4 linked regions of the Homo sapiens genome follow. The protein of the gene in region 1 purifies or fractionates together with the protein of each later gene. This does not show direct contact. Each region holds a gene or a part of one and is shown on either strand. Other genes may lie near its edges.

The links.
Region 2: the proteins of SINHCAF (region 1) and SAP30 purify together in Homo sapiens (affinity purification with mass spectrometry; 5 studies listed by BioGRID and IntAct, with this or other methods). This does not show direct contact.
Region 3: the proteins of SINHCAF (region 1) and RBBP7 purify together in Homo sapiens (affinity purification with mass spectrometry; 5 studies listed by BioGRID and IntAct, with this or other methods). This does not show direct contact.
Region 4: the proteins of SINHCAF (region 1) and SAP30L purify together in Homo sapiens (affinity purification with mass spectrometry; 4 studies listed by BioGRID and IntAct, with this or other methods). This does not show direct contact.

What each region holds. Positions count from the first base shown.
Region 1 is NC_000012.12:31,288,123-31,295,158, forward strand, and holds part of SINHCAF (SIN3-HDAC complex-associated factor), read right to left. Parts: intron 5,810-7,036; coding exon 5,683-5,809; intron 1-5,682. UniProt on the Homo sapiens protein: Subunit of the Sin3 deacetylase complex (Sin3/HDAC), this subunit is important for the repression of genes encoding components of the TGF-beta signaling pathway.
Region 2 is NC_000004.12:173,373,918-173,378,032, forward strand, and holds the end of SAP30 (histone deacetylase complex subunit SAP30), read left to right. Parts: intron 1-21; coding exon 22-120; intron 121-3,287; coding exon 3,288-3,410; 3' UTR 3,411-3,615; downstream 3,616-4,115. UniProt on the Homo sapiens protein: Involved in the functional recruitment of the Sin3-histone deacetylase complex (HDAC) to a specific subset of N-CoR corepressor complexes. Capable of transcription repression by N-CoR.
Region 3 is NC_000023.11:16,853,348-16,860,383, reverse strand, and holds part of RBBP7 (histone-binding protein RBBP7), read left to right. Parts: intron 1-1,534; coding exon 1,535-1,708; intron 1,709-2,674; coding exon 2,675-2,790; intron 2,791-6,541; coding exon 6,542-6,702; intron 6,703-7,036. UniProt on the Homo sapiens protein: Core histone-binding subunit that may target chromatin remodeling factors, histone acetyltransferases and histone deacetylases to their histone substrates in a manner that is regulated by nucleosomal DNA.
Region 4 is NC_000005.10:154,448,965-154,456,000, forward strand, and holds part of SAP30L (histone deacetylase complex subunit SAP30L), read left to right. Parts: intron 1-2,126; coding exon 2,127-2,249; intron 2,250-3,491; coding exon of another isoform or gene 3,492-3,509; exon of another isoform or gene 3,510-3,535; intron 3,536-4,437; coding exon 4,438-4,536; intron 4,537-6,935; coding exon 6,936-7,036.

The sequences.
Region 1 (7,036 bases):
GGATTTTCCTTTTGCCTCATAATCCCCAGCTTTGGAAGTGAAACAGCAGCCACCCAGAAATGCCAATGTGTACAGACAATCAAAACAACAACAACAAAACAAAAATCCAAAACCCCAATTAAAACCTGATCTCTCTAGCAAAGAACTAGGAAAAGGGCAGCCTAGCCAGACAGAAAACATTTCTGAACACTAACCTTCCTGTTCCAGCCAAACCCACGGAAAAAACTGTGGACACCTTTCCTAACCCCAGCAGAGGCTGAGGTGAAGAGCCTACATTTCCACCCTCACAAGACTTAGGAAGCACCCCAACACCTATACCAGGGTGGTGTCAGAGGAAGCCTAGCGAAGTCAGGATTTTCATTATGGCCCACTAAGTACAAGGCCACCCTCACCAGGTGGTAGCCTGAACTCTCTCCTGACATCCAGTAGTAACAAGGAGCCTCCCCCTCCCCCCAACCTCAGATGTCAATGGAGGTTGAGAGAGAAACTGGAATTCTAACACCTGGCGGTAAGTAATAGGGTGGTGAGGCCCCTCCCTCTTTCCCTGCCCTGAGGGGTGTCAAAAAAGCCAGTTAAAATAGAAGGGTTAAATAAGACCCAGAGTCTCACAACATAATCTGAAAATGTCCAGGTTTCAATAAAAAATTACATCAGTCCAAGAATCAGGAAGATCTCAAACTAAATGAAAAGGCCAACACTAAGATGACAAAGACATTAGAATTATCTGACCAAGATTTTAAAGCAGCCACGACAAAAATGCTTCAGTGAGCAATTATGAACATGTTTGAAATAAATGAAAACATAGGCTTGGCAAAGAAATAGGAAGCCTCAGTAAAAATAAGATAGAAAACTATAAGGAAAAAATAAATGGAAAATTTGTAACTGAAAAAAATACAATAAAGAAAATAAAAACCACAGTGGATGGGCTGAGCAACATGGAGGGGAGAGAGAAAACAAACAGTGAACTGGAAGAAAGAACAACAGAAATTGCCCCATATGAACGACACAGAAAACAAATGAACAGAGCAGGAGAAACCTGTGGAGCTTAGTCAAACATACATCTACATTCATGTCATTGCAGTCCTGGAGGGAGAGGAAAAAGAGAATAGAGGTGAAAAAGTACTCAAATATAGTGGCTGAAAACTTGTGAAATTTGGCGAGACATAAACCTAAGACTCAAGAAGCTAACCAAAGCCCAACAGAATAAACCCAAAGAAATCCATGCCAAAACACGTCATAATTAAGCCTCTATAAACTAAACCAAGAGAAAAATCTTGAAAGCAGCCAAAGAATAATGACATTATACCTATAAAGAGAAAACAAAAGATCCTGATTTAATAAGGAATAAAGGCAGTTCATTAGATGCAGAGCTAACCCTGATTTAATACTTTGCCTGTTTATGTGAAGATGTCAGATAAATGTACAAGCCAGAAAATAAGTTTCTTAGTTAACAGTCATTGTGCTATAAGGCTGTTGTACTGCCACGTCACAGCAAGAGCAGTATCATAAACCTCATAAACACAGGTGGGGCCTACCATACACCTTGCCCATCCCAGGACACGTTGACAGAGCAATCCTTCCATTCAGATAACCAATCAAGTACTTATTAAATATTTATAAGGCATCAAATCCTATGTTACATGCTGCATGGAAAGAAACAGACTAAAGAAAATTTGGGTTTTTTTTTTTTTTTAATTATTTTTATCTTTTGGTTTTCCTTGAGACCGGATCTCACTCTGTCACCCAGGCTGAAGTGCAGTGGCATGACCACAGCTCACTGCAGTCTCAACCTCCTGAGCTCAAGCAATCCTCCCGTCTCAGTCTCCTGAGTAGCTGGGACCACAGGCACACACCACCACACTCGGCTGGTTATTTTTTTAATTTTTAGCAGAGACAAGGTCTCGTTATTTGCCCAGACTGGTCTGGAGCTCCTAGCCTCAAGCGATCCTCCCACCTCGGCCTCCCAAAGTGCTGCAATTACAGGCATGGTCACACCTAGCCAAGAAAATGTTTTTGTTTTTGTTTGTTTGTTTGTTTGTTTGTTTAAAACAGAGTCTCACTCTGTCGCCCAGGCTGGAGTGCAGTGGCTGGATCTCAGCTCACTGCAGCCTCCAACCTCTTGGATTTTCATGCCTCAGCCTCTCGAGTAGCTACAACTACAGGTGTGCACTACCACACCCAACTAATTTTTTTATATTTTTAGTAGACAGGATTTCGCCATGTTTGCCAGGCTGGTCTTGAACTCCTGGCCTCCCAAAGTGCTGGGATTACAGGTGTGAGCCACCACACCCAGTCAAGAAAACGTTTTCTGAATAGAGCTCACAAATATTTTATATTTACAAATATTTACATAAAACAGCATAAAATTAGGTATCTAAAAGAAAGCCCCGTTAGTATTTTTAATATGTTAACTTAGCAAACAAAATCCTCAAGAGTAGCAGGTTTTAAAAAAATGAGTCTAGTGGGATGTTTAAGACTTCCTAAATAATTAACATCAACAGACACCTCTATGCTGCTGAGGAAAACTCACTCTCCTAGGAAGTGCTTAATATCTTTAAACTATTTGAAATTTCAATTATCTGACCATTTTTGTTTTGTTTTGTTTTTGTTTTCGGAGACGGAGTTTTGCTCTTGTTGCCCAGGCTGGAGTGCAATAGCACAATCTCGGCTCACCACAACCTCTGCCTCCCAGGTTCAAGCAATTTTCTTGCCTCTGCCTCCCAAGTAGCTGGGATTACAGGCATGCACCACCACGCCCAGCTAATATTGTATTTTTAGTAGACACGGGGTTTCTCCATGTTGGTCAGGCTGGTCTCAAACTCCCAACCTCAGGTGATCCACCTGCCTCGGCCTCCCAAAGTGCTGGGATTAGAGGTGTAAGCCTCCATGCCCAGCCCAAACTGCAATTTTAAGTCTTAAAAATTACGTAGGATTTAGAAGGCACCAAGGAGTGATTAGATGGCATCAAGTCGGTAGGGACAATGGGCAAAGTCAATGAGCAAAGCTGTGGAAGCCAAAAACACTCCAGGAACTGACTCAGCTCAAACAAAAATAGGACCTTCAAACACTTTCTAGGAATTCTCAACCATATTTTATAGTAAGCAGAAATCACTGCAGATTTTGAAAAGGATGACACAAAAAGAATAGCTAACATTTATAGACGAATTTATTTTGTTTTACAAAGCCATTTTTTACTTGATTATCCCCAGTTCTCTGATTAGAAAATTATGGTTAAACGTCAAGTGACTCCAGAGTTACACATTTGCTAGTGACAAGAGCTGATATTCAAATCCAGATCTGTAACTCTAGGTCCAATGCCTTTTCAGTACACCACAAAATGTCTTGAAAAGGGAATACAGGGCTGGGCACGGTGGCTCACGCCTGAAATCCCAGGACTTTGGGAGGCCAAGGAGGGCAGATCACCTGAGGTCAGGAGTTCAAGACCAGCCTGGCCAACATGGCGAAACTCTGTCTCTACTAAAAATACAAAAATTAGCTGGGTGTGGTGGCATGCACCTGTAATCCCAGCTACTCGGGAGGCTGAGGCAGGAGAATCGCTTGAACCCAGTAGGGGGAGGTTGCAGTGAGCTGAGATCCGTGCCACTGCACTGCACTCCAGCCTGGTTGACAGAGCAAGTTTGACTCCATCTCAGAAAAAAAAAAAAAGAAAGAAAGAAGAGAATACAGGCCTGGTATGTGCAGGATACACAGAAGCAAACACATAACCAGAAGCACAGACCATTTAGTGGGTGATATATAAAAATTCACATGTTTCCCAACTGCTTCAATGCACAAAGGTGCCAGCAATTTATACTGTACCTGGTGAACACCCTGTTTCAGTCTGAGCCTCCACAATCTACACACCTTATTATCAAAGGAATTTATTTTCAGTCTCTAACTACTACACAGCACAGTTTCATAATAAAAATCTAAAATTACACTGAATATTCCCTTAAGTAAGACAAAAGTGAGATATCACTTTCTCTATAATTAAGGGAAAGGGCTAAGAATATACATATGAATAATCAGTTCCTCGGCCTTCAAGTGATAAAAGAAAATTAATGTTTCCCAAATGTTCATTAAAACATCTAGTGAGGACTGGGTGTGATGGTTCACACTTGTAATCCCAGCACTTTTGGGAAGCCGAGGTGGGTGGATTGCTTGAGCTCAGTTTGAGACCAGCGTGGGCAACATGGCAAAACCCAAACTCTACTAAAAATACAAAAATTAGCCAGGCATGGTGGTGCATGTCTGTAGTCCCAGCTACTCAGGAGGCTGAGGCACAAGAATTGCTTGTACCCCAGAGGCAGAGGCTGCAGTGACCCAAGATCACACCACTGTACTCCAGCCTGGGTGACAGAGCGAGACCCTGTTTCAAAAAAAAAAAAGAAATAAAAGAAAATATCTAGTGAGAATGGAAGGTAGAGTTAAATCTTTAGGGAGATGGGGGGTTGAGAGCTGGTTAGGAAAGGTAAGTGTATAATTAAAATACATATACAAATTTATATTTCCTAAATATTTTACATCTCTACCACTTATTAAGTGGCCCAGATCAAGTTTAAATCACCTCTTTGTGCCTCCTATTCTGAGCTCTAAGATGGAAATAACTGAGATTACATATGTAAAGTGCTTAGTATACCAAAATGCTCAAAAAATGTTGAGTTCTCCTGCACTCCTCACTTTACCGTCACTAAACTTAGATGTCTTTTTCCATTATTCTAAAACAAGCATGATAACCATGTCTTGATTGATAATGTTCTCTCTAACAGGGCCCTATAGATTTTTTAAAAGTACTGAGAGCTCCAATAGAGATCCACAACCCCTAGCCGCAATTCTGAGAAAGCTCTGGAAACAGAAAGTATATTCCTAACCTATTTGGCCACAAAATCTGGCATGACCTAAACTATGACTATAAGCAGACAAACCTGACTAGCCTATGTACCATCTATTTATTCCACTAAATGTGAATACTGCTACTTTTTGCTGTAAAAATACTAATGTGTTTGGTTCAATAATGCTCCTTCAAACCCCAAGGGTAATAGAGATATTTATTAGACAATAACATTATATGCAGTGTATTTCCTTTTCAAAATCTAAAATCTCAATTCCAAAATACAGATGTGCCATTACAGCAACCCCCCAAAACTTCCAATAATAGCATGTGACCTGACATTAATTAATTAGACATTCCTTTCTCATTCTATCACACAACACACACTGCCCCTTAAACCTGAAAGCAAGCCCTGAGGTTGGCTGAATTTCAATATGTGCGTTATGATTTCTAAAGTTACTTTCCAGAAAATCTGGACTTTGGTCTCAGATTGTCCCCTTTACGTACCTTCTTGCACATCTGCAGGACTCAATTTCCTTATGGATAAAAATCAAGTAAATGAGCTAGAAATGCACCTTCTAGAAAATTAAGATGTCAATAAAGACATCAGGGTGGTCTCAGTACAATCTGAAGTGGTTAGCTAGTAGAAATACTCTCTTGAGACATCAAAATCAGAAAAAGTGCCAACATTTCACAGAAATAAGATAACATCTCTACCAAGTCAACGTTGCCTTCCAGTGCTCTTTATAAAAAGCAATAAAGGAAAAAATGATCCACACATGCCATACACCACCCCCAGCCAAAAATAACAAAACAATTATTAAGTACTAATGTTGTAATATCAAACTTACTATGACGTTTAAATTCCTTCTGCAGTTTACTGATCTGGTTGCTTTTTATCCTGTTCCCAGATAGAGTTTTCACTTTCTTTGGTTTCAATGTAGTCTTTAGACTGGGTCCAGCCCTTGCATCTACCACCTGGAAGAAAATACTGAATATTTAATAATATTTTTAAAATGACACCAGTGTATCCCTTTGGTTCAGATCCGTGCCTATTTGAGAACCACAGTTTTATACTGAAAAGAGGATGAAGCTCCATGTGCACCTTTAATCATCACATGACATAAGGGAATAAATAATATTTATCTACTGGGGTTTTTAAAGATATTCTTTCCTGTGAAGTGGGTAATAGTGGGAGTCTATTGGAAAAAAATTTAAATAGATTTGTATATGGGATAATCATTACTGGATGACCCAGCTAGGTTAAGAATCAAACCTAAAAACAACTCCATTTCTACAGGATAATGTTTTGCAGTTTACGAAAAGCTTTCATATACTTTTTATATTTAGTACAAAGCAAAAAATAGAGCTACTTTTGTTACTCCAATTTTAGACAGAAGGAAAACAAGGCAAAGATAAATTATGCATTTTGCCTTATTTCACCAAGCGAGTAAATGGGTAAGAGGGGTGGAGAGGGGAGAAGATTGGAATCAAGGTCTTCAGGCCTATTCTTTATGCTTTTTTCACTTTACACCTTAATCTCTGAGGTGAGTTACACGACAGCAATAGCATGTTCTCCCACAGTCTAGCCCAGCCATTGATCTCGCCCCATATGGTCCTGTTTCTTAGGTATTCATTCACATTTATTAGCTGCAGATTTCTACCCCATGTAAAAAGGAAGGTTGTTATCATCTTCAAAATCATGACCTATTATAATAACATAACACTGTCATCAAAGGACAATGTAAGGCTAGTGTGAACGATAACTGTGTTATACTTTCTATACACCATCTCATCCAGTTCTCACAATAGCTCTGTAAGAGAGCTATTATCTTTGCACTTCATGAATAAATATAACCTGCCCAAAATCCACAACTAGTAAGTGGTAAAGGCAAAATTCAAATTCAAGTCTGATCTACATGTTCATTAGTACCAACCTGAGTTCAAAGGATCATGTTATCCAAAGAGATTTAAGAAAAAGAATTCATGTCTAATTAACTCTGGGAATTACTGAGTTAAGCCTAAAAACAGGTGAATGCTTACTGTGAATCTCCAGAAGGGGGATATTGGATACAGCCTTAAGGAAATGCCACACCAGGCTATTCTGTTCTAAAGATGCCAAAATGTTAGGCCATTATATCTGAACAGCAGCTAGTGTTTTTCTTTATTCTTTTCAGACTTTTCTACCCTAGGGATATATTACTT
Region 2 (4,115 bases), on another chromosome or scaffold:
ATACATGTTAATTTTTTCTAGGTTGATTTATACCAATTACAAGTAAATACACTTAGGAGATACAAAAGACACTTCAAGCTACCAACCAGACCAGGACTTAATAAAGCACAACTTGTTGAGGTATATATGAGTTTTAAACTATTTGAACTATCTGCACAACCGAGAGGTTATTAAGTGCTAATGGAAGTTTTAATGTAGTGTATGTAACAGTACATTTTAATTAGAAAGAACAAAGTTAAAAAATCTGTTGTGGAAGAATCTAGTTGTGTAGAAATGTTTGTCTGCCACTTAGGAAATTCCTTTTTGTAATGACTGCTTAGTAGATTGTGTACAGCACCTTCTGATACTGGCTTTCAAAATGTGTTGATTGTTTTTTGAGACAGAATCTCACTCTGTCACCCAGGCTGGAGTGCAGTGGCATGATCTTGGCTCATTGAAACCTCTACCTACCAGGTTCAAGCAATTCTCCAGCCTCAGCCTCCCAAGTACCTGGGACTTCAGGTGTGCACCACCACACCAGGCTAATTTTTGTATAATATTTTTAGTAGAGATAGGGTTTCACCATGTTGGCCAGACTTGTTTCAAACTCCTGACTTCAAGTGATCTGCCCACCTCAGCCTACCAGAGTGCTGGGATTACCAGTGTGAGCCACCGTGCCTGGCCCTCAAAATGTTGAATGAGAGTTTTTTTAATCCTCACTTTAGAAATCTATTAATTTTAAAACTCCGTTTAACCAGTAAACATTTGAGCACCTAATTGAGGCATAATAAAATTAATTAACAAGCTTTAATGTCCTTATTAGAATTTATATTTTAAAGTGGTGGAATAGGCCTACAAATCAGACCCTAAACAGTATTTTTATAATTTGCTGACTTAACTATTTCAAAATTTGTCCTTGTTGATGTTTGTTTTATTAGAGACATCCATGTTTTTTTCACATCTAGAAGAGGCAAAAGCTTTTCTTTTACCCAAGCTTTTACTTGTAGTTTGCTTTGATAGAGGACTTCTAGTCAGTCACTGAGTTGTGAAAAGTTAACGGAGCATGCATATGTTTTCAGGATATAATAGAACCAAGAAATCTGTGCATCTTATTAAGATGTTTATAGATTTATATATATATATTTTAATCATATTTAAAATAAAAATTTTTACTTGCAGCTACTGAGGAGGATTGATTAAGCCTAGGAGTTTGAGTCACCATGGGCAACATAGCAACACTCCATCTCTAAAAAAAGAAAATTTGGCCTACTAGACAAAATAGAAGTGTAGAAATATAAATCAGTTTTCTCATATTCTTTGCATGGATTTAGTAGTTACCCAACATTTTCTAAAATGTGCCTATTGAATAAAATGAAATATGAATAGAAGTTACATTTATTTGGCAGAATGCTTTTTAACATTGTTAAAATCTAATATATTAACTATTTAGCTAAAATTTTTTATCCTTGGTTGGGCAACACAGATCTAATTAATTTTTCTTTAATTTTGATTTAAAAGATCAAGTTCTTTTGGGGTTGTACAATACATTAATGTAACATAAATATAGTTATTGCCCACCATGATGAAATATTTCAATAGGTACTAATGGAGTGAAGGCACCCCTGTTTTGGGACAAATGAGAACCAAAGAACTGATTATTTTAAATGTTATATTTAGGTATAAATTAAACCTGTAATTTTTGATAAACTGACCTTCTAAGAACAGTTATATTATTTCCAGAGCTATTTTCTTTTTTATACATAAGAGATAGCCATGAGTGTTATATTTTACTTAATCAGAAATGCAGATATTAGCAAGTTAAGGAATGTGCAGATGTAGTACATATATTTTAAGAGAGGGGTCCCCAACCCCAGGGCCATGGACTGGTACTGGTTGGTGGCCTGTTAGGAACGGGTCCGCAGAGCAGGAGGTGAGCACCAGCTAGCAAGCATTACTGCCTGAGCTCCGCCTCCTGTCAGATCAGCCACAGAATTAGATTCTCAGAGGAGTCCAAACCCTCTTGTGAAGTGCACATGTGAGGGATCTAGATTGTATGCTTGTTATAAGAATCTAATGCCTGATGATCTGAGGTGGAACAATTTCATACCAAAACCAACTCCGCCACCCTCAATCTGTGCAAAAATTGCCTTCCGTGAAATCTATCTCTGGTGCCAAAAAGGTTGGGGACCACTGTTTTAAGGGAATCCAGGGTTGTATGACTAAGTCTTAAGTCTCTTAATTATTGTGTGGATGAACTTTTTTCTTAAGAAATTTTATTTTCTGGAATCTAAATATGCATGTCAGCACCCCAGGTAAGTCTATTATTCTTCTATTAGTAATTGTAGTATGCATGTTATGTTAGCACAATGAAAAAGCAAGGAAGCAGGTAAACATCCTTCATTGAACATCCCTCTTTCTCCTCTCATTTCCATTCATAATTTTTATTCAGAAAAATTTTCAAGGAACCTTAACCAAAGAATGCTACCAAGGTGTGAATGAATGAATATAATTTGCAGCAAACAATTTATATGTTATTGTTGGTTTCTCTACTAGCAAAAGTTTTCAACTTCATACTTCTTTTTCTATCAGTAGAGTCTAAACCATTGCAGGTTTAATGATGCATGTGATCTCTTACGTCTGTTTTATCTCATTTAAAGTTTAAAAGTAAAATCATTTATTCCCTATTCTAGATTCTAATTATAAAATTTATTATTTTTATTTTATTTATTTATCTTTTTTTGAGACAGAGTCTTGCTCTGTTGCCCAGGCTGAAGTCCAGTGGCATGATCTCAGCTCACTGCAACCTCCACCTTCTGGGTTCAAGCAATCCTCCTGTCTAAGCCTTCTGAGTAGCTAGGATTACAGGTGTACACCACCAGGCCTATCTAATTTTTGTATTTTTTTTGGTAGAGATGGGGTTTCGTCATGTTGCTCAGGCTGGTCTCAAACTCCTGGGCTCAAGTGATCCACCCACCTCTGCCTCCCAAAGTGCTGGGATTACAGGCATGAGCCACCACGCCTGGCCCAATTATAAAATTTAAAATAAATAAAAGGAAAATATATTTTCTAATCAATGTATATTAAATTGAGTGGGTCAAAGGGTCCTTTGAAATCACACTATCTCTTGTTCGTAACATTTTATTCTTGAATGCTTTCTGTCTTGTTGATATTTTGTTAAATATAATTTTTAAAGGAAATAGCCCTTATCACATAGCACTTTTTCTTTTGATGAAACCGTATTTTTTACGTAGTTTATGAAACCTGTTATATCTAAAATTTAATTTCCTTAATTTTTCTTTTCTTTGTAGATAGTTGGTTGCCACTTTAGGTCTATTCCAGTGAATGAAAAAGACACCTTAACATATTTCATCTACTCAGTGAAGAATGACAAGAACAAATCAGATCTCAAGGTTGATAGTGGTGTTCACTAGGAGACGTGGAATTGAGACTAATAACTTGGATGTTAACACTGTTTACTGTTTTTTCACATGTAGAAATGTTCTTTGTGTATTTTTTCTACAGAGGATTTTCTCTGATTTTATTTTCTTTGTTTCTGACTCTAATAATTAGTTGGAAACTCATATAAAATGAGCTTTCCTAAATTAAATCTATTTTAAATAAAGGTTATTACTATTATAGTTGCTTCAGTGTATTTATTTTGTGAAACTTGATTTTTCTTTTAAACTGACTAAGAGATCAGTATTGAGATTTTAATGTAAAGTCCTTCATTTTGTAATCCTTTTTTTTTTTTTTTTTTAAACTTCCAAGAAATTAACAGGGTAAGGAGAAGTAACAAATGTAGCACATTTGCATTCTCTGGGACAATCTGACTTGGAAGTGAAGATAATCTAAATAGCATTATTTTTTAAAGTGCTTTATAGGGCTAGCAAATTTGAAAAATAAACTTCTCTTGGAATGCAACTTCTTTTTTATTTCCTTTTTTTTGTTATTATTACTTGATGAAGTACTAGGAAGAACAAATGGTTTAATTTATATACCCACCTCCTTCCAAAGAAGACTTAATGTGCCAGCAAAGATAAACACAATGCTGAAAGTTGAAATAAGAGTATAAAATTAAATAGCTGTTTTTCAAAATTTTGTCTTCGAGAAAAGATATTTATGTGGCATGAATATAG
Region 3 (7,036 bases), on another chromosome or scaffold:
GGATATTATCATTAAGACAGTGACTTTTCAAAATTTTAAGTTTGAGAAAACAAAACTCTGTGTTCAAAGTAAATCCTACTTGGAAGCCCCGCCCCCCCCCCTTTTTTTTTTAAAGGAGAGCTCTTCAGGTTGTTTTAGCTAAAGGAATCAGGAAACTTGAGTATCTTTGTAGCAGAAGGGTTAGAGCCACTGGAGTCCATGGAATGGGATGTTGAAGGTCAAAGTGGAGCAGATTTGGAGCAGTCTCAGGAGGGAGGAGACGATTGGATCAGGAGGGGTCTTAGCATGCCGAGGCACATTTCTTCCATTGACACCATGGAACAGAAGGTGCTACGAGGAAAAAGGATCCTTTTGCATGTGGTCACATGAGAGTAGTGGGTAGAGGAGCTTTGGAGTAATCGTGGATTTGAGATACGGTTTTTTCAACCACACTGAAATAGTAAGCTATGTTTGCTTCAGAGAGGAACGGCTAGATACTGATATTAAGACATGGAAGCGAGTGTTCATTAAGCATTCCACATAGAAGGAGCTGCCTGGAACTGAGAAATGGTTTGCTCCTTTTGGTGGTTGCTCCAGGCCCCGGTCTATTTTACTTCTTACCTGTCTGGCTCCAGTAGGCATTTGTGTTAGTTGTCCCTGACCTGAGACACAGGGTGAGCTAAAATGGAATGTGCAAAGAAAAGGCAATATAGGTCAGGAAGAATAACACAATTGTAATGTGAACCCTCCTATCTTTTTAAGCGTCAGCAACTAATTCAGGTTTTTTTATCTATGAGCACAAAAAAGAATGTTCTTGTTTGCTGTATTTGCTTAGATGTTCTCTACTTGTATTCTTTCTGCTAACATGTTGCTACTTCTTGGAAGTTACCGTACTTTTTATATGACTTTGTTACTTTACAAGGCCTTTTTCATGATTATTTAATACTATAGTCTTATTCACACACCAGATGGGCGGAGAGGTTAACCTTGGCACTGCACTAGCAGTTAAACCAAGTATGCTGGCAGGGCCAATGTATGTGTGTTTAGGGACAGGTAGGGGTTAGCGTGGGTTTCTGATTGATTTGAGGATGCTTCTGACTTCAGACTCAAAGGGTGTTCATACTGTGGAGGGTTAAAACCTTTCCTGTTTTGATGAATCCTAAAATAAGATGCTAATTCAGTGCAGTACTTACAGTGAGTTGTATTTGAACTAAAAAGCTATTGGTCTGCTTATTATATGGTTACTTGAAATTTCAGTGAATAACTATATCATCTTCATAACTGAAAGAGGACAGTTGTTTTAGATCCAAGGTGGAACTGAATTAAGTTGCATAAGGCAGCTACCAATATTTTCCAGTGCAAATGGGCTTTAAGAATAAATTGATGTGGCAAATGAACCCACATTTTTGGGTTTTCTCTATGCATGTTTCTGTCTTTGTCTTGTCAGTTTGTGTTGTATTCTGCCAGGTCAAAATCTGTTAGGTTGATTGAACTAAGTGATTTGTGAATTTTAATCCTGAGTGTGTGTGTGTGTGTTTCTTTCTCCTCACATTAGAATTTGGTGGCTTTGGTTCTGTAACAGGAAAAATTGAATGTGAAATTAAAATCAATCACGAAGGAGAAGTAAACCGTGCTCGTTACATGCCGCAGAATCCTCACATCATTGCTACAAAAACACCATCTTCTGATGTGTTGGTTTTTGACTATACAAAACACCCTGCTAAACCAGGTATGTAATAATAGAGTTAGGTCATTACTTGAGCAGTTTTCTTGATTCAAACTGGTAATGTTTTTAAGGTCAAAGTAGCATACTTTATAATATTTAAAGGTTTAAAAATTGCTTTGGGGGTCCCATAACCATCCTCAAGTTCAGGGATTTGCCAGAACTACCTAAAAGCAGCTTATACTAACAGCTAAAGTTTATTACAGCAAAGAATCCAGAGCAAGAGTAGGAAGAAAAAGATACACATCAGGGGAAGTCCAGAGGGGTTAGCTACAGGCGTCTGAGTCCTTCCCATCCAGGGCCACGTGGGACATGTTTTGTCTCTAGCAGCAAACCATAGGAACATGTGCTAAATGTCTCTACCCAGGGCAGCCCATTTGAGTTTCAGAATCTGGGATTTTTGTGGAGGTCTGTTGGCGTGGGCACATCCTGTTCTATGACCAGCCATGGTAACAAAATTGAGGACCCCAATAGTGAAGCCAAATACATTGTGAATCTTGCTAAACAATCCTACAAGTCTTGACAGGTCCCTATGGCATACCCCACTGCTCTGGGCTTACAAAACTTTATCAGTCAGTGACGTGAAGAACTTTCTGAGGGTCACATTCCCAGGGGTTGGCCAAGGGTCATTTATGGTTGCAGGCTACCCTAGAGGCATGCAAGGACTGAGCAACCAGACCTGTTGTGTTAGAAATATTTCTAAAAAATTGGGGGGTTGCGGGGATACGGTCACCACTGCCCAAATTTGTAGGATAGCTATAGTTTTTAATATTTTTGTGTTGGGGATAGTATTAGGTTTTCCAAAGAAACCAATCATCTAATGGTCATGAGGCTCAATTTGCATTGGGTATTAAAGACCAGATCTCGTTCGTGTGCAGTTGCTGTAATGGTTCACTCAATGAAGGAGTGAGAATTTATTCTCACCAGTTCTGATAAACAGAGAATAACTTAATGTTTTTCATCTTTTCTTAGACCCAAGTGGAGAATGTAATCCTGATCTCAGATTAAGAGGTCACCAGAAGGAAGGCTATGGTCTCTCCTGGAATTCAAATTTGAGTGGACATCTCCTAAGTGCATCTGATGACCATGTGAGAAACGTATTCTTTGTAATTTGTTCATATAGTGAGAGCTGACGTGTCACAGCTGTGCTGAAGGAGTACTATATAGATGAAAGGTTTTCTAAGATAATACTGCTGATTATTGTGGTAACATTCCCCCAGGACTTTAGAGAGATGGTTTTCATACTGCCCTGTATGAGTCTTCGGATTCCACAGAGCTCTTTTGAAGTAGCCTTAGAATGGAGGGAGCATAGGCAAAAGGCCTCCCATTATTTAAAAGAGGACCCTCCAGGCCCTTAAAATGGAAACTGTAGAGTGTTTGTGGGACCTGATTAATATAAAGTATTTTTTAAGTGTACAGTTCAGTGGGTTTTAGTATATTCACAAAGGTGCACAACTATTGCCACTAATTCTAGAATGTTTTCATTCGCTCTCTGAAAGAGAAATTCCATACCCATTAAGCAGTGACTCCCCACTCATTCCCTGCCTTCCCCCAGCTCCTGGTAAGCACTAATTTATTTTCTGTCTCTATAGAGTTATCTGTTCTTGGTATTTCATGTAAATGGAATCTCATATATGGCCTTTTCTGTTTGGCTTCTTTCACTTAGCATAATGTTTTCAAGTAACATTACTTATGTTCCATTCCTTTTTATGGATGAACAATATTCCACTGTATGGATATACCACAGTTAGCTTATTTGTCAGTTGATGAACCATTTGAGTTCTTTCTACTTTGGGGCTATTTTGAATTATGTTACAAGCATTTGTTTACAAGTTTTTGTGTAGATGTATGTTTTTATTTCTCTTGGATATATACCTAGGAGTGGAATTATTGGATCATATGGTATCTCTGTTTAATTTTTTGAAGAATTACCAAACTGTTTTCCAAAGTGGCTTTCCATTTTACATTTCCACAAGCAATGTACAAATGTTCCAGTTTCTCTACATCCTCACTAATGCTTGTCTTTTTTATTATAGCTATCCTAGTGTGCATAAAGTGGTATTTCCTGGGTTTTTTTTTGTTTGTTTTTGGCTTGGGGGTGGGGAGTTGGTTTTTGTTGTTGTTGTTGTTGTTGTTGTTTTGTTTGTTTTTTGAGACGGAGTCTGTCTCTGTCACCCAGGCTGGAGTATAGTGGCACGATCTCAGCTCACTGCAACCTCCACCTCTCAGGTCCAAGCGATTCTCCTGCCTTAGCCTCCCAAGTAGCTGAGATTACAGCCATGCACCATGAAACCCAGCTAATTTTCGTACTTTTAGTAGAGACAGGGTTTCACCATGTTGGCCATGCTGGTCTTGAGCTCCTGGGCTCAAGCAATCCTCCTGCCTTGGCCTCCCAAAGTGCTGGGATTACAGGCATGAGTCACTACGCCCAGCTCATTGTGGTTTTAATTTGCATTTCCCTGATGACTAATGATGATGAGCATCTTTTCTTGTACTTACTGGCCATTTGCATATCTCCTTTAGAGAAATAGGTATTCAAATTCTTTGTCCATATTTTAATTTTGTCTTTTTATTGTCAAGTTATAAGAGTTTCTTATGTATTCTAGGTATAAGTCCCTATGATTTTCAAAAATTTTCTCCCATTCTGTTGTCTTTTCACTTTTTTTTTTTTTTTTTTTTTTTTTTTGAGACAAGGTCTTGCTCTGTCACCCAGGCTGAAGTGCAGTGGCTCAGTCTCGGCTCACTGCACCCTCCACCTTTCCAGCTCTAGTGGTTCTCTACCTCAGCCTGTCAAGTAGGTGGGACTACAGGCGCCCACCACCACACCCAGCAAATTTTTGTATTCTTTGTAGAGATGGAGTTTTGCCGTATTGCCCAAACTGGTCTTGAACTCCCGGGCTCAAGTGATCCACCTTCCTTGGCCTCCCAAAGAGCTGGGATTATAGGCTCTCTGAAAGGATGCTTCCCTCAAAGTGTGTATGAGACGGTTTCCCAAGTAGGGAAAGTGGATAAGTGGATTGTACTCAGTAACCCAATTACTAGTACCTTTTGAAGAGACCAGGCTGGGAATTGGTAGTAATAATAATAGCTGACATTTACCAGGGGCTACCCACATGCCAAGCATCATGCTAATCTTGCCAGGTCCTTCTGAGTCAGTGTGAATGGCAGGAGCACCACATGTTCCTTTCTCTTCAGTTCACACACATTGAGTGTCTTCATGTGTAAGTAACAACAGAGACTGAGGGCATATGTATTGTGTAAAAAAAAATTTTGTTACTGGGAAAATAGCCATTACTGGGAAATAGCTTTGTTACAGAAAGTCCTTCATGTGGCTGGGCACAGTGGCTCACGCCTGGAATCCCAGCACTTTGGGAGGCCAAGGTGGGTGGGTCACCTGAAGTCAGGAGTACAAGACCAGCCTGGCCAACGTGGTGAAACTCCGTCTCTACTAAAAATACAAAAAAATTAGCTGGGCTTGGTGGCATACACCTGTAATCCCATCTACTCGGGAGGCTGAGGGAGGAGAATTGCTTGAACCCGGGAGGCGGAGGTTGTAGTGCGCCAAAATTGTGCCCTTGCATTCCAGCCTAGGCAAGAGAGTGAGACTCCGTCTCAAAAAAAAAAAAAAGGTGATTTAATAAAAACAGATGAAGCCCTTTCATGATCACGTGCTATGAATTAAAAAAAAAAAAAAAACCCATACCAGTGTCGGTGGAACTATAATTAGTGCTAATATACCTTCATGGTATTATTTCTTATTAACTATTGAATGAGAATCGTTGCCCTATACCTTGCAATATTTTTTCATTAAAACTTTCCTCTTAACTCTTTCTGTGATAGGATGTCAAGGCCCACATCATGAGGCCTCCTTATTTGTGGGCTGCTGTGACCTTTGAGGCCCAAGCAGAGGCCCCATGGCCTCTGCTTGGGCTCTGCTGACGTTTCAAGGAGCACATCATTGGGGATCTGTCTGTGGGCGCCAGGCCTTGACCTCTCAGAGTAGACTAGTAGAGGTTTCTGGCCCAGTGTCGTTTACCTGTCCCATCTCCTGATGTCTGTGGTGGTTTCTGCCATGAAGTGAAAGACTTGTCCATGAGGCTTTTGCTATGTGAGAGGCAGAGTTTAATTTTAATTCCCAGTCTTCCCATCCCAGTGTAAACTTTTAGGATGTGCATTTGTGTTCAGTAGATGCTGAGCGCCGGGCTCTTGGTGATTTGTTGTGTTGTCTAAGTGAATTTGGGGTACTTGAATGTCTGAATGTATGTAGGTAGAAATTCCAGCATCAGTGTCCTTGCCTGCCACTGTACTCAGTCTCCCCTCCCCCTCATTACAGTGGAGTGTCCTTTTCCTCTGCACCTCACATGGAGGCTGCAGCCACATACTCTTCTGTTTGCTTATATTTTCTCTCTTGTGTTTACCTCAAACTTATATAGTTGAATAGTTTTGTTTGTAATGAAATTATTTTAAATAAGATGTTAGCATTTAAATTCAATCTCTTGACCGGGCACAGTGGCTCACACCTGTAGTCCCAGCACTTTGGGAGGCCAAGGCAGGCGGATCACTTGAGGCCAGGAGTTCAAGACCAGCCTGGCCAATATGGTGAGACCCCCGTCTCTACTAAAAATACAAAAAAAATGAGCCAGGCATGGTGGCTTGCACCTGTAATCCCAGCTCAGGAGGCTGAGGCAGGAGAATCGCTTGAGCCCTGGAGGCGGAGGCTGCAGTGAGCCGAGATCGCACCAGCCTGGGTGACAGACTGAGACACTGTCTCGAGGGAAAAAAAAAAAAATCAGTCTCTTATAGCCCTTGTTCTTTTTTTTTTCTCTCCTTCTCTCTTAGACTGTTTGTCTGTGGGATATAAACGCAGGACCAAAAGAAGGCAAAATTGTGGATGCTAAAGCCATCTTTACTGGCCACTCAGCTGTTGTAGAGGATGTGGCCTGGCACCTGCTGCACGAGTCATTGTTTGGATCTGTTGCTGATGATCAGAAACTTATGATGTAAGGTGGAAAATTCAGTGGGATCTTGTTAAATGGGTGACCTGAATGACCATCAGTGATTGCTGCAGGCTGTAGTTTGATTTTTTTTTTTTAAGTTATGGCTTTAAAAAACAGCTTTAGGTAGCTTACTCCTGTAATCTCAATACCTTGGGAAGCTGAGGCAGGAGGATTGCTTGAGACCAGGAGTGTGAGACTCTACACAAAATTTAAAAACAAAAAATTAGTTGGGTATGGTGGTGTGCACCTGTAGTCCTAGCTACTCAGGAGGCTGAAGTGGGAGGATCACTTATTATTTAGAAAAAAAGAAAACTAGGTATGGACATGTGAAGGAACA
Region 4 (7,036 bases), on another chromosome or scaffold:
CAGAAAGTGAAGGAAAAAAAAAAACTAGAGCCTTTGCTACCACCCTCCTGCCCCAACCCCACTCCCAAAGGCCACTGAGCTCTGAAATTTCTGAAAACCAGTATGTACTTGAAAATGGTTAAGGAGAAAATGATTATTTATCTTGTAAGAGAGTCTAGCAGAGAACCTTTTTAAATAACAACACCAGAAATTCAATTCAGGCTGTTTAACTCATTTTATATAGACTTTGGCAGTGTTCTGTGATCTGTTAAAATACTAATATACCTCCAGTTGACATATTTCTGCTTTTTTTTTCCTGGAGAAAAGTGGAAGTTGAGAATAGTATAAAGGAAAATGCTGGAGTAGGAAAAGACATGTACTGGGGGGGCAGAAGGCCTGGGTGACCTTGGCCAGGTCATTTCCTCACTCTGGATGGCTTCATTTTACCCATTTAGAAAACGGATTGGGGTCAATGGGATTGCACTAGTGATTGCTAAGTTCTCTTACAGCTAGGATTCCGTTATTCTATTGTCCTGATCTGAAATCTCCCAGCCAAAGCTTTAGGAAGCCACCTATTCTCCCTGTTCTCCTATGAAGTTTGTTACTGTGAACTTGAGGAGCAGTTGATCTGAGTGGACTCGCCAGTCTAGCTAACATGGAGGGCTAGCTTCCTCTCAGGGATGCAGAGTGTGCTTTGTTGTGCTTTCTTCCTGGAGAAAAGCATGTCCAGTAGTATATACATCAGCTAGGTGGGATTCTTTGGGACAGTGGCATGTGCTGTGTTTGAAAGTCCTTTGACAGAGTTGAATCTGACAAAGCTATCCCAGTTTGTAACCATGTTAAGTGGTGGCTTTCATTAGCCTTAAGCCACTTTTAGATATAGGAGACTTCCTATATTGGTACATCAACATTTTTCGAGTACCTCCTGTCTGCAAGACACCATCACAGTATAAACTTAAAAGTACTTATGACTCACTAATCCAGCCACATGAAAGTGATCATTCATCTGAATAAATAAATAAACAGTTTTCATTATTTTCTCCATGAAAAGGTCTGAATTAATTGATGCGGATTTCCTGCCAGCTTACTTTTATCTTTAAGGATTTAAGGAATAAACTCAAATTCAGAAGTCTCTGCAGAACATTTGTGCAACAGCTGTTTCAGTATCAACAACCCCAAGTCATTTGCTGGGCATTCAGTTTCTGTAAAGTTTTTCAGTGGTTCCTCCAGCCAGCCTTGGAGGATTCTTCATGTCTTAGCTGTTGCTGCCACCTTCACTTACCAGTGTGCCTCCAGCCTGTATTAGAAAATCTGTAGTATCCACCTTCTTGTATGTGGTTCTACCTTGTAAGAACTTCCACATCTTTTTCCACTTTTCTTTGTGGATCAGATGTGAGATAATGCAAGAATTATAAATTGACACATAGAAACAAAGTTTTTCAAAGAGTTATTATCCTACAATAGTAGCTATTGTAATTGTAAAAATAGAGTGTCCCAAATACCGTTGCAACAGTCCCTTGTGTCCTGCTTTCCTCCTCCCCAGGACAGTACATTCCAGTCGACTATAAGTTTATGACTCCTACAGGTCTTCTAAAAATGTCACATCACTTCCTGCTTCCTTGAGGGACTCTGTCTTGTCGGAAGGAAAGTCTAAGCTGTTCTCATGCCCACCCCCCTGATGCCTCACTTTTTCATTATGCTCCTACATGGGCAGCCATCATCACCCAACTGACACTGTACCCTGGGCCTCCTCACTCTTTCTGTCATCCTCCATTGGAAACTCTAAAGTCTTGGCACTCCTACCCATCTGGAATGCTTCCTGTCTGCCTAAAGTCCTCCCTTTTAGTCAGGGCCCTTCACCCTGAGCATCTCTGTTGCAGGGATCTCTTCCTTTGCTGAATCTGTACCATTTACTGTCTTCACCATTCACTGGAAGTTTGGTGTATGATACGCTGCCAAGTGTGATGTTAGCATTCTCTTTGTGTTCTGCAACTCAGTAGTGAGCTTCTGGGAATGATGGCCTACATCTTGTCTTCCATCTATCTCTCCAATGCCCTGCAATGGAAGGAAGCCCCGCAATTCGACAGATACCTATTGCTGTCTCCAAGGAATTGGCCAACTCTGACTTTGATTTTTGTCTCCATCAGGTAAGGCACCTATATATCTGTGATTTTCACAAAAATTTCATCCAGAGTGTCCGAAATAAAAGGAAGAGGAAGACAAGTGACGATGGCGGAGATTCTCCCGAGCACGACACTGACATTCCTGAGGTAAAGGTCAAAGAAACCAGTTGCGGAAGCTGGAAGAATGGATTCTAATCTGATTCTCACCTCTGGCCTGGTCTGCTTTTTGTGTTAAGAAGTAATTTTAGTCCTTTTGTTTTGCTGTGGATTATTTGAAAAGTGAATTATAGTAATATGGAATCTGAGAGCTAAAAGCTTGGACACCCACTGGTCAGACTGCCCCATCATTTTACAGACAGGCACAGAGAGCCGAGGTCATGTATATAGTTTGGAGGCTCTAGTCTAGGGCCCTTTCCAGTAGACCACACTGCTTTTCTGCAAGACGCCCCTGACGAATGCGTAAATACAACCACAGTGTCACTTTTTTTTAAACCTTGTTTATGCCTTTAGAGAGTGTATAATGGTTTGGGAGAAGTCTTTTCCCCAAAAAATGAAGGTGTAAGTCATCAGTTCATACCAGCTCTGATTTTCTCTCACTGATTTCTTGACATCTAGTCCAGGCTGTTCCCAAGGATCCATTTCAAAGTTGACTAAACTGGACCCGGTTTTCTCAACTCTAGCACTGTTGACATTTGGGGTCAGCTAATTTTTGTTGTGGGGACTGTCCTCTGCATTGTAGGATATTTAACAGCATGCCTCAGCAGCATCCCCTCGTGAGATTCTACCCATCACCACCCTGAGTCATGACAATCAAAACGTGTCTCCAGACATTGCCACACCTCCTTTACAAGACAAAATCGTCCTGTGTTGAGAACCACTGCGCTAGACCATGAGACCTAGGCTTCTCAAACTGGAAGGCTGCCTTCCCTTCAGGTGCCCGTGTCTATTAAGTGAGGCTTCAGGAAGGAATATTGGATTTTCTTTCTACTAAATTGTTTTCACTCAAGACTCAGCAAGAGAAGAACCGTTTATAGTGTACATTGAATATTTGACACATGAATATTTCATAAGGCAACCGCCTGTTAGCACTCAGAGTGAAAATGACTGTGTAGGAATAGAAAGAGTAGGCGGGCCTTTGTCTGCAGATGTGGAGGAAACCGTTGAAAATCTGGCCCTTTCCCTCTGCCCCTCCCTGTGTCCCCTTTTCCAATGTTGGTTTACAGAATCTTGCTTTTGCCTTTAACGTTATTGTTATTTTACAAAGAAATGGACGTATTCGATTTCTAAGTGGTTTTCACCAAAAAAAAAAAAAAAAAGGTTTTGAGGAATGTTTTGAAAAAGAATGAAGGACTTTGGCCCCTCATATTGATCATTCATTTTGTTTTTAAGTGCTCTCCACCTGCCTGAAGCAAGAACAGCTCTTTTAGAGGCAGGTAAAGGCAGCCCAACTTTATGGGCCTTCAATTTTTCATGACTATGCAGCTTTCCTCTCTTCCTTTGTTAGAAACAAAAAGGGGGGGTCCCTTCCCCTCTGTTATCCAGTCATCTGCAAAGACCCCAGCCCTAACCTGCTGGATTGCACATTCACTACAGTAACTTTTGAACTTTCTCTGGAGGGAGGTTAAGGATTCTAATACCAGAAGGCTGGGCCTAGCAAAGAGCTATTTGAGGATAACAGCCCTCCTTTGTGCTCCTCTATCCGGTCGCTGCCTCGTTCTGGCCTATCATCCTCCAGGATGTCTCTGGTTTTTGCCTTTGCTCTCCATCTTTGGTGTCCCTTCTAGCATCACTGCCCCTCCAAAGCTCAGCCTCTTCATCTCATTCTGATTGTTGCTATAGCATCTCCCTCCGTATCCCCCCATCAGTCTTCCCAACAACCACCACCAGACCCATCCTGCGCCATCGCCCTCCACCCTCTGTGATAGCTCCTTCTGTTTTTCTGGATGTGCTACCATCCATTCTCACCTTTTAAATTCATCACAGTTGCCTGTGACCCCCTTGCCCATCTGTGCCTCTCCCAGCTCTCTGTGCTGTGATCTTTTCCCCTATTCCCTACCGTTTCTCAGTGCTTTATCAGACCCTGCTCCTCCTTAGCTTAAGCTTTACCTTTTCCACCAGTTTTGTGAGATCAGCCCACCCCAGCCAGAACTGTTTTTCTACTGTTATTTTTGCCCTCCTAGCCAGTTACTAGTCCTCAATAGACCATTTCTAAGACCTCTTTTGAAGCCCTCCCCATCCTCACCCCTACCTTAGTGTAGTGCTAGGCACATAGTGGGCTCTTGGTGAGTCCTGGGTGGTCAGGTGATGGATAACATTTTTCTCCTCTTCTCCCTAGGTTGATCTGTTCCAGCTGCAGGTGAACACCCTACGACGTTATAAACGACACTACAAGTTGCAGACCAGACCAGGCTTCAATAAGGCCCAGTTAGCAGAAGTAGGTAGACAAAATTGCCCTCTAAAGAGAGCCAGCATTGTGCTGCTTCTGATGGTTACCCTGATTCTCCCTTACCTTGTGTGTCTGCTAATTGTAATTTCCTCCAGAGTTCTGGAAGCAACTCTGTATTCCTCTTTGGCAATTTAGAACCCCACAGCTTTAGACCTGCAAAGGCCTCAGTTCCAGAAAAGAAACCATGGCACAGAAAGAGGAAAGGATTTGCTTAAAATCACACAGCAAGTTGATAGCAGAATTGAGCCTGGGATCTCATGACTCCAGATTCTAAGTCCTGAGTGTTCATTTGTTTGAATCTTTTTTGGAAGATTCCTCTTTTTGTTTTTTTGGAGACAAGATTTTGCTTTATCACCCAGGCTAGAGTGCAGTGGCTCAGTCTGGGCTGACTGCAGCCCCAACCTCCCAGCTTCAAGTGATCCTTCCCACCTCAGCCTCCAGAGTAGCTAGGACCACAGGTGCACACCCCTATGCACAGCTAATTTTATTTTTATAGAGATGCAGCCTCACTATGTTGCTCAAGTGATTCTCTTTGGCTCAAGCCATCCTTCCACCTCAGCCTCCCAAAGTGCTGAGATTACAGGCGTGAGCCACTGTGCCTGGCTTAGCAAAATGCTTTTTAGATATGATCATTTTGTGTGTCAGATTAATCATTTCAAAACCTTGATGTTCTACAGGAGCTATTTTTTTTTCCTTGATTTCTCCTACTCTGGTGTTGGTAATGACAGTATTTTAATGAATGGCACCCAAGAAAGTTTTCTCCTGCCCTGAGTTATTAACACAGTTTGGATTACGGGGAAATGCTCCACTGGCCATTTTTAAAATACATGAACTGCCTGGCTTGATAATTCTGTCTTTGTCATTTCTGCAGGTATTTTCTAATCCCTCTTTTCTTAATATATTTTTCTGCCTATTACAGAAAAGTTGGAAAATGGAGAAAAGAAAAATATAATTCTATCATCCAGAGATAACCACTCTTTATGTCTAGTTCTCTGTCTTTTTTTATCTGTTTCAGCCACCTTGATCCATTGAGATTTCCTGAAAGGCTTCCAGCCTGTTTCATTTTTGGTTTTTCCTTTAGAGGTTTCTTGCTCGACCGTCACTTTTTCTTAAACAACTCCTTCACCAGTGTCCAGATGACACACAGGAGGTCAGAAGCCTCTCCTACTTTAAAATAACATCACCCATTTGCCAGTGTTCTCCCTGGTGGAAGGGAAAGAATGAGGTGGGGCAAGAGGAGACCTGCATTCTCATTACTTATGGAATGAAGTATTAGGAGCATTAGTAAATGATGCATTTTCCTTCAAACCTGATATGTCTTTCAGGAGGCAGTTATGCACTACTTAGAAGAATTTTGGGGTTCAGATGCCTCTGTTCAATTTGTTCAATTGGCTGTTCATTTAACACAATTTTTTTTTTTTTTTAAAGACAGAGTCTTGCTCTATCTCCCAGGCTGGAGTGCATTGCTATGATCTCAGCTCACCACAGCCTCCACCTCCCGGGTTCAAGTGATTCTTCTCCATGTTTCCCGAGTGGCTGGGATTACAGGTGCCTGTCACCACACCCGGCTAATCTTTGTATTTTTAGTAGAGGCTGGGTTTCACCATGTTGGCCAGGCTGGTCTCGGACTCCTGACTTCAGGTGATCTGCCTGCCTTGGCCTCCCAAAGTGCTAGGATTACAGGTGTGAGCCACCATCCCCAGCCTAACCCAATTTTTATTTGTTTTTGAGACAAGGTCTTGCTCTGTCTCCTAGGCTGGGGTGCAGTCACAGCTCACTGCAGCTTCAACCTCCTGGGCTCAAGTGATCCTCCCACCTCAGCCTCCTGAGTAGCTGGGACCACAGGTGCATGCTACGACACCTGGCTAATTTTTTGGTAGAGATGAGTTCTCCACTGTGTTGCCTAGGCTGGTCTCGAACTCCTGGCCTCAACTAATCCTCCCACCTTAACCTCCCAAAGCATTGGGATTATAGGTGTGAGCCACCACGCCTGCCCCACAATTTTTTAAAGACACATTTCTTCCCACTTTCAAGGCCTGAGAGGTTTGGTAGCAGCTGGCCAACCAGAGCAGTCCCAGTCTCTCCTCCATGAGTATGACTGTGAAATCATGCCATGACAGGTGGTTGGCTGCCACTGAAATAGAACTGCACCTTGGAAGAGTTGTAGGTTAAAAAGCCACTTTTGGATCCTGGAAATTAAACCACCTACATCCCTGGGGAGGAAGGGCAAAGGGCACTCTGAGTTCCGCACATGGCAGGAAGTTCTTCAGCATTTGTCATTCCCGCCACAGCATGCAAACAACTCCATTCGCTTCTTTGTACAATGTAGAATTTGCGGTGTGATTTGTGCATGGTTTAAGGAACTTTGGTATTTTCCCCCCACATAGACTGTGAGTCGACACTTCAGGAACATACCTGTGAATGAAAAAGAGACCCTTGCCTACTTCATCTACATGGTGAAGAGTAACAAGAGTAGACTGGACCAGAA